Homo sapiens: one gene and its partner. Each later gene encodes a partner of the first gene's protein in a complex. Each region holds a gene or a part of one and is shown on either strand. Other genes may lie near its edges.

Evidence for each region. The genes of interacting proteins can lie anywhere in the genome.
Region 2: the proteins of SEMA4D (region 1) and PLXNB1 are in contact, whole or in part, in a crystal structure (PDB 3OL2), measured with the Homo sapiens proteins. Residues at the interface, in NP_001358123.1 of Homo sapiens: Glu99, Lys100, Gly101, Phe158, Tyr179, Phe181, Leu182, Gly183, Ser184, Arg198, Tyr201, Ile203, Glu208, Val240, Leu264, Arg265, Thr266, Leu267, Gln268, Lys270, Thr347, Gln350, Ser351, His352, Thr353, Asp388, Gln392, Lys395; in NP_001123554.1 of Homo sapiens: Leu80, Pro81, Pro82, Glu87, Arg136, Pro137, Gly138, Asp139, Thr140, Tyr142, Gly178, Glu202, Lys205, Ala207, Gly209, Arg210, Ser212, Glu213, Arg235, Arg242, Asp359, Val360, Asn361, Ser362, Leu367, Pro368, Thr371, Tyr375, Ser379, Asp380.

The regions. Positions count from the first base shown.
Region 1 is NC_000009.12:89,495,095-89,502,802, forward strand, and holds the start of SEMA4D (semaphorin-4D isoform 1 precursor), read right to left. Parts: upstream 3,020-7,708; 5' UTR 2,825-3,019; intron 2,409-2,824; exon of another isoform or gene 2,281-2,408; intron 563-2,280; exon of another isoform or gene 473-562; intron 1-472. UniProt on the Homo sapiens protein: Cell surface receptor for PLXNB1 and PLXNB2 that plays an important role in cell-cell signaling. Regulates GABAergic synapse development. Promotes the development of inhibitory synapses in a PLXNB1-dependent manner.
Region 2 is NC_000003.12:48,406,080-48,413,100, forward strand, and holds part of PLXNB1 (plexin-B1 precursor), read right to left. Parts: coding exon 6,990-7,021; intron 6,881-6,989; coding exon 6,663-6,880; intron 6,542-6,662; coding exon 6,363-6,541; intron 6,226-6,362; coding exon 6,159-6,225; intron 5,931-6,158; coding exon 5,784-5,930; intron 4,958-5,783; coding exon 4,789-4,957; intron 4,480-4,788; coding exon 4,376-4,479; intron 4,305-4,375; coding exon of another isoform or gene 4,302-4,304; coding exon 4,217-4,301; intron 3,999-4,216; coding exon 3,826-3,998; intron 3,653-3,825; coding exon 3,492-3,652; intron 3,398-3,491; coding exon 3,250-3,397; intron 1,013-3,249; coding exon 948-1,012; intron 820-947; coding exon 744-819; intron 662-743; exon of another isoform or gene 489-661; intron 1-488. UniProt on the Homo sapiens protein: Receptor for SEMA4D. Plays a role in GABAergic synapse development. Mediates SEMA4A- and SEMA4D-dependent inhibitory synapse development. Plays a role in RHOA activation and subsequent changes of the actin cytoskeleton.

The DNA.
Region 1 (7,708 bases):
GGCAGCATCTGAAACTTCTGGACCAAATAACAGGACCCTGCCTGCCCCCCACTGAGGTTTGCACAGGTGCTGTGGGAAGGCGGCTGCTGATGCCCCAGGGGAAGCAGCAAGGCAGTAGAAAGCTGGGGCCCCTGCTGTGACACCCCCAGCTAAAGGCAAATTCGCTCAGGGAGGGTCACAGAAGCTGAAAAGTGACCCACAAGCAGCAAAGCAATTTGCTTATCCCAAGGATCGCCTTAACTAGTGCACCTAAAACACCACCCAGCTTCCAGGGAAGGCCCTGGCACACCCTCTCCACCTGACTGAATCAGCAGCTATCTCCTCCAGCAGCCCTGGACCCTGGACGGCAATGGTGATGGGGATGGGGATGCAATGGGCAGGGCTGAGGAACTGCACCTGCCAAGCCCAGGGCGGACCCTGGCCCAGGGAAGAGAGGACCCACCCCAGCTGCCTCTGCCACCTCCCTTCTCACCTTCTAGTCTTCTTCCTGGAATTGTCCAAGTTCAAAGAAGAAATAACTGCCCTGGTTGGGAACAGCAGGCAGCAGCCTTTCTCTCAGCAACTAGGCTCGACAATCAGCCGACGGCACGTTTATTTCTATATTTTCACGTGGCAAGTTTCATCCCCATGGGTCCTAGCTCCAACCCTGGAGCTCTGGCTCCAGGGGTCAGGAGGAGAATCTGCAACCACCCTCCTGGACCCGCCCATCCCTCCCTCCCCAACAGAAATGGAACCAAGAGAGGCAGAAGCCTGAACAGCCTCAATGCAGAAGCACAGAAGATAGAGAAAACCATTGATCTTTGCAATGCATTATTGATTTTGCTGTTGTGCTGTCAGCAGCGGACGTTCCCTCCCTCCTCAGTCAAAGCTGGCCATTAGCGTGCACTCCCAAGCTTTGGCCTAGACACACCCGCTTGGTGTGGGGAAAGCGGCTCTAGGTAACATCTGCCTCCAGCGGTCCACATGGAGAGGACTGTCCACAAGTGGATGATGTCACCAAGGACATCTCCCTGGCCCCAGACCCACTGGATATCAAATGCAACATGGTCGCTGGTCTTGCACTCTAAACCTCAGCCCAGGACCCCAGGCACTCAGGGGGGTCTGTGCAAGGCTGCATTTTCAACAGACTCTGGGTGTGCTTCTCAGGAGGTGGGCCCCCTCCCATGGAGTCCCTCCCTTGTGCTGTGCTGCAAGACCTTGGGCTGGCATGGCAGCTGGGGCTCTGCATCCCCACGGTGGCCTTTTGCCTGTCTGCACTCTGAAATACAGCCACTGAGTTCCACCGTCTACCAACTCCTAAGCGGCCCACCCTCCTGGGACCCCAGGGCTGCTCCTGGCACCAGTGATGTGTTTCTATTTCTTTGTTTGACTCGCTGAGTGTACCACGTACACTCTTCTCAGTCTGAAGGTCTGGCCTTATGGGAGGGCAGTCTTTGCTCACAGAAACAGGCCAGTGCATCCCTCATCTTCCCACCCCAGCCTCCCTGGTGGGTATGCTGAGCCCGCCTGCTTTCTTCTTCTGGCTGACGACTACCAAGACATGATATACGCAGACACCAACTGTCAAAATGACAATCAGGGCATTATCATCTCTACCAGAATCCTGCCCCTGCACTGGCCAGAGCTGCCTGTTTCTGGGACACAGTAAACATTCCCAAATAACCTCGCCTGGGCAGCCAGCAGGCAGGCCCCAGGCCTAGGACACATATGAGGTGACAGGCCACTGGTGTCACGTCACCCCCAGGAAAGGAAACTTCCGTTCCGTGGCGCCTGGTGGATTTGAAAAGACTCAGAACAGCAGGGTGAGATGCTTGGCCCCAGGCCCCACGTCCAGCTTGGCCTTCGGGGGCCTGGCCACCCACGAGCCTGGGATGTGCTCAACACAGAGTGAGGTTTTCAAAACAAAAGCAAAGCAACTTCATGTGGAAAACCTTCCGGAAAGCAGGACCCAGCCCTCGACACCAGGCCTCATTTGACGCAAACTGCCCACTTACAGACTCCCATTCACCCACTCTCCCACCTACCCCCCAAAATACTAAGCCAGAAAATAGAGGACAACCACGAGTTCAACTCTCCTTTACACGTTTTTACTGGCATAACCCCAGTAGAGCCAGCCCCTTGCAGCTCACTAGGCGGCTGCAACAGGTGCAGCCCAAGCTAAGGCTTGTGGTTCTCCTGGGCTGTTCTAGAATAATGCAACCAAAACCCGAAAGGAAACCGAGGCCTGCAGCACTCACTGCCAAGGCGGCGACCTGACCACTGCGGCCCAACCTGCCCCACCTGTCTGAGTGCGCGGCGCCGGGTCCAGTGCACAGGGTCCGCGGCCTCCGCGACCAAAATAGAAGCCCGCGGGGGCCCGGCCAGAGCCCGGCTGGCCGGAGTGGGGCCTGACCTGGCGGGGCCGGACTGGGCGGGCCGGGGCGCGACGGGGCCTGGCCGAGCGCACCGCCCCCTCCCTGGCCCGGGTATGCAGCGCGCCCCCGCTCCCCCGCGCCCAGAGGAGCCACCTGCGCGCAGGGACTGGGGAGGCAACCGGGAAGGGGAGAAGGCCGGGGAGGGATAGCAGAGAGGTCCAGGGGGTCGGAGGGGTCCGGGTAGGTGTCTCTGGGAGGCGTCCCAGGAGGGGCCCCGGGGGGATCCAGGAAGGAGTCCAGGGGTCCGGGGATCCCAGAAGGAGGCTCCTGCAGGGGTTCGGGGAGGGCCCCGAGGGTCCGGTGAGGAGCCTAGGGGTGTGGAGTGGGGGCTCCGCGGAGGGTCCAGGCCGCCCCCAGCGCACCTGCCCGGCCCCGCGCGCCCTCCCTCCCGCGCCAGCCCGGCCGCTTACCTGCAGCGCGCGTCCTGCCCGCGGCGGCTCCCGGCCGGGCGAGTTCGGGCGCCAGGAATGGCGGCGGCGGCGGCGGCGGCAGCGGCGGGAGGCGGCCGGGCCGGGGAGGGGGTGGCGGGGAGGCCCGGCGGCGGCAGCGGCGGCTGGGATGCTGCGGCGCGCGAGAGCGCTGAGGCCGGCGCGGGGACGGAGTGCGCGGGGCGGGCGCGCAGGCCCCTCCTCCGCTCCCCCTCCCTTCCCGCCTCCTCCCCTTTCCCTTCCCCTTCCTCTCCCCCTTCTTCTCTTCCCTCCTATGGCCCCGCCCCTTTCTTCCTCCTTCCTCCTCCCTCCTCCTCGCCCCTGCTCACCTCCCTCCTTTCCCTCCCCCAACCTTTCTTTTCCTCCCTTCTCTTTTTCCTCCTCTTTCTTCACCTTCGCAACACTCTTCCACCTCTCTCCCCTTCTCCCCACTTTTGCTCCCCACTCCTTCCTCCTCACCTCCCATCTCTCTTGCCTCCCCGCCAGGCCCAGAGGGTTGTCCCTCAGCCCTGGGTTGGTCTCTGCTGAGTCAAGCACCCGTTCCCAGGACCAAGAGGTGCCCTGTCACCCTCTTCCTCACCAGCTCTCAATAGACAAGCTTGCCCCTTCTGGGGTCCTGGATGAACCCCACCCTTTCCAGGCCTCCCCCAAATCCCCCAGTTTTTTTTCACCCCCAGACCCTGGGCCAGCTCTTCTGAGAACCTGACCTGCAGTGTGCGTGAGGCACGTGGCACCCAGAACACTTGGCTGCTGACTTTGGGCAAGAATATTTCACACCAGGCTGCTCCCATTCCCCAGGGGAGGGGCTGGCACCACCTGGAGTCTTGGTTTCCCTGAACCCCCGTGCTAGCCTTTTGCCAAACGTTCATCATTTTCCACTCTGTATGGCAAATGGTCCTCCTGTGAGGCTGCTGGTGAGACTTGTTTGTGACTAGCCCATGGGTTTGGGGATCTGGGGGCCCTCAGAGATGGTGCTGCTCCATCCAGACCTCTTCCCTCTGCCCCCAGGAGAGGTGACAGGGCTCGCACAGTGACTGGCCAGGCTGGGAGGCCTATTGAGGAACACAGTCCTGAGAAGGGGACACAGTTTCTTACGGAACCAGCTAAGATTTCCCCTAAATGTGAGGAGTTGGGGAGCCCCTCTCCAGGCCAGGTGATACCTCCCTGGACTACAGACTGCTGTTGAGGGGCAGGGGCCCTGAGGCTGTTTTCCTGCTGAGCACTGGCTCTGAGAGCCAGAGTTTACAAATGAAGCCAGTCCCAGGCCCAACAGTCACAGAGTTAAAGGCCCAACAGTCTCAGAGTTCCGTTCTAGGGCCTCCTGTGGTTTCTGTGGTTCAGTGCCGGAGCTCTGAGAATAGGGCTTCGGCCCAGCAAAGGCTAAGATGGCAAAGCTGGTGTCAAGCAGGGTGGGGTGGAGCACGCACCCCCTCCTCCCTCTACGGCATGGCAGCCACCACCCTCTTGCTGAAGAATCCAGACCTGGAATCTGATAGACTCCCTTGACTCACAGCTCTGCAGTTTCCAAATAACCTCAGGCCTCAGCAAACCTCTGTACCCTGCAACATGAGGACAGTGTGGTCGTCCTGGAGGGTTTGGGGAGCACGGAGAGAGAATGGCAGGTAAAGCCCACTGCACCGTGTGCTCGGGTTCAGTGCTGGTGACTATTACAGGAAAAACTAGAGAAGTCTTTTCCAAGCTCTTTTCCAATTGTAGGGGTCCATGAATCCATGTTCCACATCCCATTTGGATTGAAACATAATGGGAACGGATTAGGACAGAACTGGTTTAACAGCATTCTATACCCAAGGAGGGATGCACGCTTAGGATCTACACATGCAAGCATTGCACTGATTGGGGTGGGGTGGGGGGACTCTCTTTTATTCCTCACTAGTCAGACACATCTAGAATACCATGCCCTTGCTTGGTGTCTAAGGCAGCCAGCAGTATCCCGTGGGAGGGGAGTTGACCCACCGGGAGTCTTCAGCCTAGAAAATCAATGTGTGGAGCACAAGACAGAAGAACCCCAATATGTGCAAAACTGTCCCGGGAAGAAGGATTACTCTGTGGTGTTATGAAGGGCAGAATGAGGACAGATGGGTGGAAATTAGATGAGAAAGTGGATTCCTGCCTATCGTGGGCGCTTTCTGACAGACCTCACTGTGGAAGAGCCGGCTGCCCCTACAGGAGCGTGCCCTTCACAGCCAGCGTCTAGACAGGCCTGGGGCCACCTTGGGAACACACTGCAGGGAGGGGACCAGCAGCAGAGGGGTATGCTTCTCAACAACTGCTGAATTCTCTCCTGGCTTTTAGACCCACATGCTCAGAATCTAATAGAGGGCAGCCCAGGGCAAAGAAGAGACTTTGCATGGCTGTCCTGGGGCCCACACTTCTGGCATCATGACCTTCCAGAATACTGTCCTCTCTAGCCTGTTTCCTAATGCATACAGAAGAACATGAGAGAATTCAGTAAAAACTCCAAAAAGCTTTCCGCAATGCCCAGGCTGCGAACACAAGGGCTTCTTTGCACCGTGCTTATATAAAATTGCCCCCAAACATGTTTATTGCATTCATGAAGGAGACAGGACTCTTAGTTGTAAGTGATAGAACTTCAGCCCATACTATTGGCTCACTTGCATCCAAAGATGCCCCAAGTACCATTAGAACCGGGACTTGGATGCCATTATTAGGTCTTCCTCTTCCCTCCTCTCTGACCTTCTTCCCTGTTCCCTTCTCTCAGCATGATTGCCTATGTCTCCCAAAGTGACCAAGCTTGCCTTTTTATTCTTGTTTCACACTCTGTCGTGGGACATTTCAAACATAGATATAAAAGTAGCAGGCTGGGTGCAGTGGCTCACGCCTGTAATCCCAACACTTTGGGAGGCTGAGGCAGGCGGATCACCTGAGGTCAGGAGTTCGAGACCAGCCTTGCCAACATGGTGAAACCCCGTCTCTACTAAAAATACAAAAATTAGGTGGGCATGGTGGCACAAACCTGTAATCCCAGCTACTCAGGAGGCTGAGGCAGGAGAATCACTTGAACCCGGGAGGCGGAGGTTGCAGTGAGCCAAGATCATATACCACTGCACTCCAGCTTGGGCGACAGAGCAAAACTCAGTCTCAAAAAATAAAAATAAAAGTAGCTAAATGAACTCCAATCTTGCCTTACCTCTCACCCCCTTACTTTCCCCTCCAATATTAAGTTCAAGCATATCAAAGATCATATTAACCAATCTATTTCCTAGTTTCCCCAGAAATGCCAAGTGTTTGGATACTGAGACCATGCTTTGCAAAGTTTCTCTGCATTTCCCAGCCAGAATGTTGACACCATCTATATGCATATGAGCATAGTAACTGGATTGATAATAGTTAAGTCCCATATGAGAAAAAAACTCAAGTATGGCAGCACAAATAATACTCAGCTTCCAACACGGCCCAGGTGGATATGAGGAGAGAGGATCCTCTGCTTCCACTTTGCAGTGCAGGAGGGAACAGGCACGTAGTGGGCTGGGAGCCGTTTCCAGATCGCCCAGTGTGGAGCCTTACGCAGTGGAGGAGGTGTCTTCAGAAAGAGTCGGCCTGCCGCCTCTCACCTGTAGTGGCATGCAGAGTGTCCAGGCTAAGCTTAGAGAGAGAGTCAGCACAGCAAGTGGAGAAACGGGGTCCTCTGAGGGACTGTGGGAAGGTTGGCTCTGGGACCTGCCAGCAGCTTCTAGAAAAGTCCGGGGAGATGTCCTTTGAATGTGACCACACTCTGCAGAGACGTGGGTGAGCCACACCTCCACTGTTACCATGCAGTGGCTGCCAAGACCATGCTGTGACTCCTACTCCTAGCTCTGTTCCTCCCCGCACCCCAGAAAAGGCTGGTAAGAGTGTGGCCTTCCTGGCCAGCCTCTCCAAAATAGAGAGTCCACACCGGTCTCTGTCAGGCACCCTGATTGTTAGAACATGTCAATGAAGGAAGCCGAAAGGGATTTTGAAGGCTCTGAGATCCCCAGGCACCTCTAGCACCCTCATATGTCCTTACTGCCACTGAGACCCCCACAGGACCCACAGAGCTCTTTTTGTTAAAGCCACACTTGGAAACGTGGGGTCACACCAGCAGAAGCATAGAAATGAAGGCCGTGCTGAGATGTTATCATTGCTCTGTGCTCCTGCACAGCGTTCAACTGTCAAACCACTAAGTGCTAGATAAATCTGGTGAAGGGGTGTAATCCATTTTTGGTGCACACACTCATGGCAGCACTTCCCACATCACTGAACATGCAGAATGGTTTACCAAGCCATCCTTCGTCATACTGGGGAGTGTACAGGATGCTGATGTGGCCCCATCTGACCATTGATCTAATCAGTGCTGGTGTCTGCTGGATTAGACTTGCCCCAGCAAGTGAACTTGCCCCAGCAATGCCTTTCTGACCTTTAAGGTGACTGCTGTCACCAACTGCCAGACCATGGACCTCTTCGCATCCCTGGCTGGCTGGCAGACACCCACTTATGTGTCAAGGCTCTGCCCTGGCATCATTTCCTCCAACACAAACCCATGCACCCTGGGCAGAGCTAATATCCCCCACCCTGCTCCTCAGCTCGAATGTCACCTTACACGTCACTTCCTTGGTGCCTGCACCAGCTTCCATTATAATTGTTTGTTGATAGTTTTCTTTCTTCTCTGGTCTACATTTTGAACTTCACAGAGTGGTGAGGTCTACAGAACTCTTTTCAGAGTAATGTGTTTAAATGCATAAAGTCAAATACAGGATTCAAAAGGAAATGAATTATACTGAAATCCAGCTACCAAAATACTTTAAAATGTGATCTACTTGCTTCTTTTTTAATAATATGCTCTGGCGGCAGATCTGATAGCTGTAG
Region 2 (7,021 bases), on another chromosome or scaffold:
GCCTCTCTCACCCCCTTGAGGTTCTAGCCCAGACCCTCTGCCACCCAGATGACTCCAGAGCCAAGTGGCACAGATGCCACTTGCAGGCTGACAGCCCAGCATGATTCTGCTCTGGCCTAACTCAAGTATTTCCTGAGGTCACTCTCAGGCCCCTCCATGGGGACATCTCTGAGCCTCAACTTCCTCACCTGGACGATGGAATTGGTGTCACCTAGCTTGTGGAGTTCTTGTGAGGATCAAATAAGACAATCAAAGCACCCCATGAAGGGCTTCACACACAACACCCCAAAATTATATCTGCTATTAGTGTTGTGGTTGTCATCATCAACATTTCAGAAACATTGTTCATAAACTCCCTGGAGTTACATTTTAGGGCGGTTTCAGGAATGGGAGAGGTGAAGGGGACACCTGTGCCACCAAGGGAAGCACAGCAGTGGGAAGACGCATGCAGGCAGACCCAGGCAGGCCTGGGGCTGAATCCCAGCTACCTTGCAAGAGCCTGGCTGAATCAGGGTACATGGCAGCTGCCAGGACAAGACCCCTGCTTGCTCTGTGATGAGATGGTGGGAGCCCTGGTCTTTCAGTGGCAGTTGGAACATTCTGCATTTATGTTTCCTGCCCCAACCAGCTCACAGGGCTGCTGAGGTTCCCAAGGGCTTCCCTGCAAAGGGGCAGTGTGAAGGGGGAAGGACCGTTGTGGCAGGAGGCCTATGCCCAACCCAAGAAGCAGAGGGAGGCCTTACCCAGGACAGTTCAGCCAGGACAGAGTTCATCTCTTGGTCGCTGGCTGGGACAGTCTGTCTGATGTCTGCATAGTACCTGCCAGAGAGCCAGGGCACAGCAGCTGCTGGGTAAACAAGCCCACTCCCCTGCTCCCAACCAGAGCCCACCCCCCAAGCCTCAGCTGCACACGCCCTCCAACCTCTACCCACCGTGCCCTCCAGTACCTTTCCACCATCCGCTTGTACCGGGGAATGTCCCGTGCATACAGAAGTTTGTTGATCGGGGAGTCCTGGACATAGCAGGAGGACAGCAAAAGAGGAAGGAAGGAAGGATGAGGGTCCCTGTTCGAGTGATCAAGTGTCCTGGGTTTCCCAGTACTGCTTCAGTTTTGAAAAGGAAAAGTCTCACATCCCAGGAAGCCCCTGAGTCCCGGAAAACCAGGACAGGTGGTCACCCTCGCCTACTTCCTTCCGCAGGAGCCTCTGCTGCTCCCTCCCTTCCACCAATGTCCAGTCTCTGATGTCATCGGAAATCATTTCTCAGCTCCACATGCCACCATCTAGATCCAGCAAGAGCCCGGTACGTAGGGCAGGACGCATGCTGTTCACTCCCAGGGTCATCATTTTAAAAATGAGCAAACAGACCCAGAACATTACCTAAGCGGCCACAGACCACCTCTCTCCCCAGTGGCTGAGCTAGGATTTGAAGCAGGTCTGTCCAGTTTCCACCACTTTAACACACCTAGACACAGCGTCTACAACTGAACTGGGTTCAAGTCCCAGCAGCCATGGGCTCTGGGCAGCATACTTCTATTCTCAGGACCTCTCCTCATCCTAGAGCTGCTGGGAAGGTGAGAATATCTCGAGGTGGCACTGTCCCCCATGAGCAGGGATCCAAGGCCAGCTCCTCTGTCAACCTGAGTCAGGATTCGCGCCTTCTTGACAACTCCCCATGGGGGAACCCTTGGCATTCTTTGTTCGGACTACTCCTGAGCTACCCAGGAACCATTTGCTGTTCTGCTGGGAAGGGGAGGTACTGGAAGGATCTGGCAAAAATCCCAGCCACCACATAGGGTCTACCCTGGAGGTGGCCCTGCGGGTCCTGGTGTGGCCCTTTGATTCTTAGCTCATTATAGGCATGATGACAGCATGTGGAACAAAAATGGCTCCCAAAAGACAGTGCTACAATTTTGGACAGAACTTTCCGTTTTTGTTTTTGTTTTCAGACAGGGTCTCGCTCTGTTACCCAGGCTGAAGTGCAGTGAACAGAGTAGTCATGGCTCACTGCAGCTTCAACCTCCCAGGCTCAAGCCATCCTCCCACCTCAGCCTCCCTAGTAGCTGGGACCACAGGCACACACCACCACTCCTGGCTAATTTTTGTATTTTTTGTAGAGACAGGGTTTTGCCATGTTGCCCAGGCTGGTCTCAAACTCCTGAGCTCCTCAGGCGATCTGCCCACCTCAGCCTCCCAAAGTGCTGGGATTCTAGGTGTGAGCCACCGTGCCAAGCTAATTTTGATTTTTCCCAGAGGTGTAGGGATGTATCTCTCAAGAAGTCCCAAGCCAACTGAGACCTGGGGGTCTAGGCTAAGCAGAGCCCCACTCATGGACCTGCAGAGTCACACGAGGGCCCTGCCCACTGGGTGCTTGAGCAGACACCTTGGGGACCTCATATGTCAGGGGACTCTCGGCTTTGACTGCTATGACAATAGACTCCCAACCTCTGTGCTCCCGGACGGCTCCAACTACTCAGTCTCCTGTGCTTCCCAGCTCCCCTCCTCACACATCCCTCAAACTGTGACACTCCATGAACTCTCTTCCCTACTTCCCTACTGGCAGGCAGACACCTCCACCACCCTAAGGAATTAAACCCAATCAGCAGCCCAGAGCTGCTCTGGGATTGAACAATCCATGTCTCTATCTGGAAACCCCACAAACACCAGACTCACCTTCTCCAAGTCTAAGCTTACCACAGCCAGAGGCCCAGGGATCATGTGTGACTCCCCTCCTTCTTCCTCATCCCCCACATCCAACCTTCAGCTTTTGCCTGCCCTGCACCCTCCCACCCGGCTTGAACCCAGCCACTGCTTGTCAGGACAGCACAGCGCCCTCTTGGGACTCCCTCACTCAGCTCATCCATGCACAGCAGCCACAATGTTCCACCAAACTCTCAGGTCTGGTCACATAACTTCCCTGTTCCCAGACCTTCTGTGGCTCCCACTGCCCCAGGAGTGAGTCCTGACCAACTGGCCCTGGCCTACTGCCACGCCTGGCCAGCATTCTATGCCCCAGCCACACCAGGCTGTACTTGCTGCACACAACTTCACCTGTGAATTGGCACACAGTGTCCCCTCCTCTTGCTCATCCCTTAAAACTGAGGTGGCCCCGGGATGAAGCCTTGGCTTGGGAGGTCAGAGGTCTCCCCTAAGCCCTCCTTGAAGTTCTCAGAAAAGCCTGGAATCTGAGTGCACACACAGCACTGTCCACCCTCACCCATCCCCCCGTGTCCATCCCAGACTCGCTCACCCGGCCCAGCTTGTGGTCGGCCAGGGTGCAGGCGTCCATGAAGGTCTGTGCAATGACAAGGAGCACCGCATCCATGTTATCAGATGTTTGCACGTCGAACACAAACTGCGGGTTTTTTATTATATTGATCCAGAACCTCAGAGGCAAGCTGCGGGTGGGGCAGGCATGGCCGATGAATGTGCTGGGGAGGCAGAAGAGAAGACCCCCCACACACACCTAGAGCCCACCCAGCTCCACCCCACCTGTTGGTCTTCCAGATGTGGATGGTGTCCTGGTCGGAGATGCCATGCTGCTGGGCCTGCTCATCCAGCAGGTCAAAGAAGTACTTCACAGCGAGCGGCACGGGGCGGCTGGTGCTGAGAATCACCTGGAACAGGTCATCCACGAACTTCTGCAGGGTGCCCTGTGGGAAGGAAGAAGCAGAGAGGTGTGGTCAGCAAAGGGCCCTCAGCAGCAGCCCAGCCTCAGACACCCCCCGGCACTGTGCCTGCACGAGCCCCACACCACCCCCAAATCCCACGAGTGGCCATGCTCCCTCTCAGCCCAGGCCCCACTACCTTGGCAGCCCCACCCCACCTTCATGGACAGCAGGCGGGTCAGGTAGATCTCAGGGATGGCCTTGGCGCGCTCACGCTCCCCGCCCCGAAGGCTGCCCCTCCGAGGCCTGGGCGGCTCCGGCTCATCACTTGGCTTCACCAGGTGCCAGGGCCGGATGCCCCCCTCATCTACATCCTCCAGCATTGGGGTCCCTGTGCCAAGAGCCCACAGCTGTCACCCCTCCCCAGGTGCCACCTCCCCAGGCCCCCTGTTTCTTGCCAGCTCTCCCAGGGGTGGGGGCACCTGGTTGAGGGATTTCCTGGGCCGAATGGAAATAGGCACAAGCCTGCCCTGAGGCCCAGAGGACCTTCCCCATGACTCCGGGCTGGGCACAGCAGGGGCAGAGGACCGTGATGGGAGCGGTACTCACGCTCTCCAGGGACATAATCCTGGTTTTCCCGGAGCACATGCTTGGTGAGGCAGGGGACGAGGGCCACAGTTGCTCCATCTGGGACCTGCTGAGCACAGCTGGTGATCCCTCCACCAGTCCCACCCCACCATGCCCTCCTCCAGCTCCCACTCCTCCTACCTTGTAATGCTGCAGTGTGTTCAGGCGCCTCCACAGACCCTGGACCTCAGAAGTGACATCCTCGTCAGAAAGAATGAGGTGCCCGGCCACCCCAGACCGCCACTCTGCAAGGGCAAGGCAGAACTGGGTGCAGGGCTGGAAGATACCCTTCCCATAGTGGAGCCCATCTCCTCCTCCACAGGGACACCAGCCCCTCCATCATGGGGCAGCCTTACTCAACCTCTCCAAAGACCAAGAGCAGGGACCCCCTCCCCAGATGAGAGGCTGTCCAAGAAAGATGTTCCAAAGCCAGCTTCTGCCTGCCTCCCAGCATCCTCCCCACCCTGAGTGATGAGTTGTCCCTGCAGAGTTGGTCCGGGGCCAGCCCAGGCCCAACAGTGGCTCAGGTCCCCAGGGGCTCTCCACGCCCTCACCAACATCAAGGGTGCGAGGGTCTGGCCGCTGGGTGAGAGGCACTCCTTTATAAAGCTGGTCCAGCATCTTCTCCTTTGCCTGGGAGATGGTGTCACAGTCTAGGACCTTCACGGGCACGCCCTGGGCCTCTCCTGCCCCAGGCCCCACAGCCAATAGTGCATTCAAGGTCTGTGCAGGACACACAGGAGCCATCAGGGTTCATGTGCACTCAGGATGACCAAGACACAGGCCAAGGGCAGAGACAACTCATGAGAAACTGCTGCCTCCAATCCCCACGCACCACACAATCCCTAATTCTCGTCTCTTCACCTGCCTGCCTTCCCCAGGGACAGCAGCTTCCTCCCCATTGTGACCCCAGCACCTAGCGCAGTGCACTTGTAAACCACTATGGGGTAAATGGCAGAAAAAAATGAGTGAGCACAAGTCCCTCATCACTCAGATCCCCAGGTTCCTGGCTGAATGGGTCAGGCTGACGGAGTTTCGGGAAGCCTGCATTCCCACCATCGGGAGCAAATATTCCCACCTATCCGACAGGGGAGGGGTTCAGCAGGCCTGAATGGGGGTTTCCCACAGGAACCCTTGTGCGTAACTAAGGGGAAAGCAAACCCAGAGAGAAGTGCCTGCCAGAGTGAGGCTGGCTTGGTGGGCAAGGCCGCATTCCTGGTAGGAGGGCCAGGCAGACAGGGTCAGGCCCTGACACAGCTCAAGCCCATGGTCTAAGGTAGGGCTGGCTTCTCCCAAACCCTGGTTGTGGCTACCCTAGTTCCATCCCTAGCCTGGGGCACATAGAGGCCTTATCATCAAAGTCTGCCCTAAACTGCTATCCTGCTAAGCTAGTCTGATGGGCTCTCTCCAGGAGCCAGCCAGAGGTCAACCCAGCTCTACATCCAGGTACCACATCAGAAGCTGGTGTCCAGACCCCACACACCCACACACTCTCCACCCTCGCCCTCACCGCACTCAGACTGCAGGCCACACACTTGCACACCCTCACCAGGGGACGGTACTCCACATCCTCTCTGAGCAGGCGGTTGTCGTTCAAGGTGTATTTGGCCTTGCCTGTCACACTGTCCACTGGCCCCTTATCCACTTGGTGCTTAATCCCTCGAAAGAGCATGTACAGAGGCTCCCCTACGGAGTCCTAGGAGAGCACAGGCAGTTAGGGCCCCCCAGCAGGTGGCAGAGGTGTATGGGACATGACGCACACTGGGGAAGGGGACAGGACATGGGCTTAAGGGGACTGAGGACAGGCTGAGCAGGAGTCTCTGCTCTGGCACAAGTGTCCGAGCTGCATGGTGGCTGAGGGCTTAGAAGTTTGGAGGGCCTGACCCTCCCTGGACAGGAGCCCTGTCCACCTCTGCCCCCTCACCCTCACGAAGGTATACAGACAGATGGACATCCAGTTGGTGAGCAGCTTCTCCACCACAGTCTCTGTCCTGAGATGATGGGAAAGGGGAGTGCCAGGGTCAGCAGGTGGGGCTGCGGGCCTCTCTATCCTGCAGACCCCCCAGCCCGAGGCCCCACCCCAGCTCCAGCTGTCCAGGGCCCACCCAGCCCCAACAGCCACACAGACCTGCGCAGCATCAGCTTGGGGTTCTTGGCCACATACTGGGCAACCAGGTCACTGAGCAGAGTGCGGAGGATGTCAGTGAAATACTCAAGCTTCCCATGCAGTGCCACGGTGAGCAGAGATGCCACGTAGGCACGGTCCCGAGCTGAAAAGGTGCGCTGGCTCTCCAGCGTGTGGATGAACTGCAGCCAAAGAGAAGGGATGGGAAAAGGGGTTTAGGGGGACAGAGGGGCGGGCTCAGAAACCATGCCCTGGAGAAGGGGCAGGGCCAGGGGCAGGCCAGGAAGATGCAGCTGGGGGTACCTTGGTGAGGAAGAGCTTGCTGTTGAGCAGGTTAGAGAGCTGCCCCAGCCCTTGCTCCACAGTGGGCCGTCTGCTCTCAGGCACACCCAGGTCCCGGTGCAAGGGCGACTCGCGGTGCCCAGGGAAGAAGATCCTCTCCGCATACACCTTGTAGTCGAGGAAGGGGATGCCGCTGCCCAGGAGGTCACTGGTGAGATCGGTCATCTCAGTCATGAGGTCTGTTAAGCAGAAGAGGCCAGGTTAAGCACCTGTTAAGCACCAATCCCGTGTGATGGGAGTGGGTTTGGGCAGAGTTCTGGAGGGCGGGGCCCATTCTCTCAGCCACACCTGTGAATTCCTTCTTGCAGCGGTCCCGCACA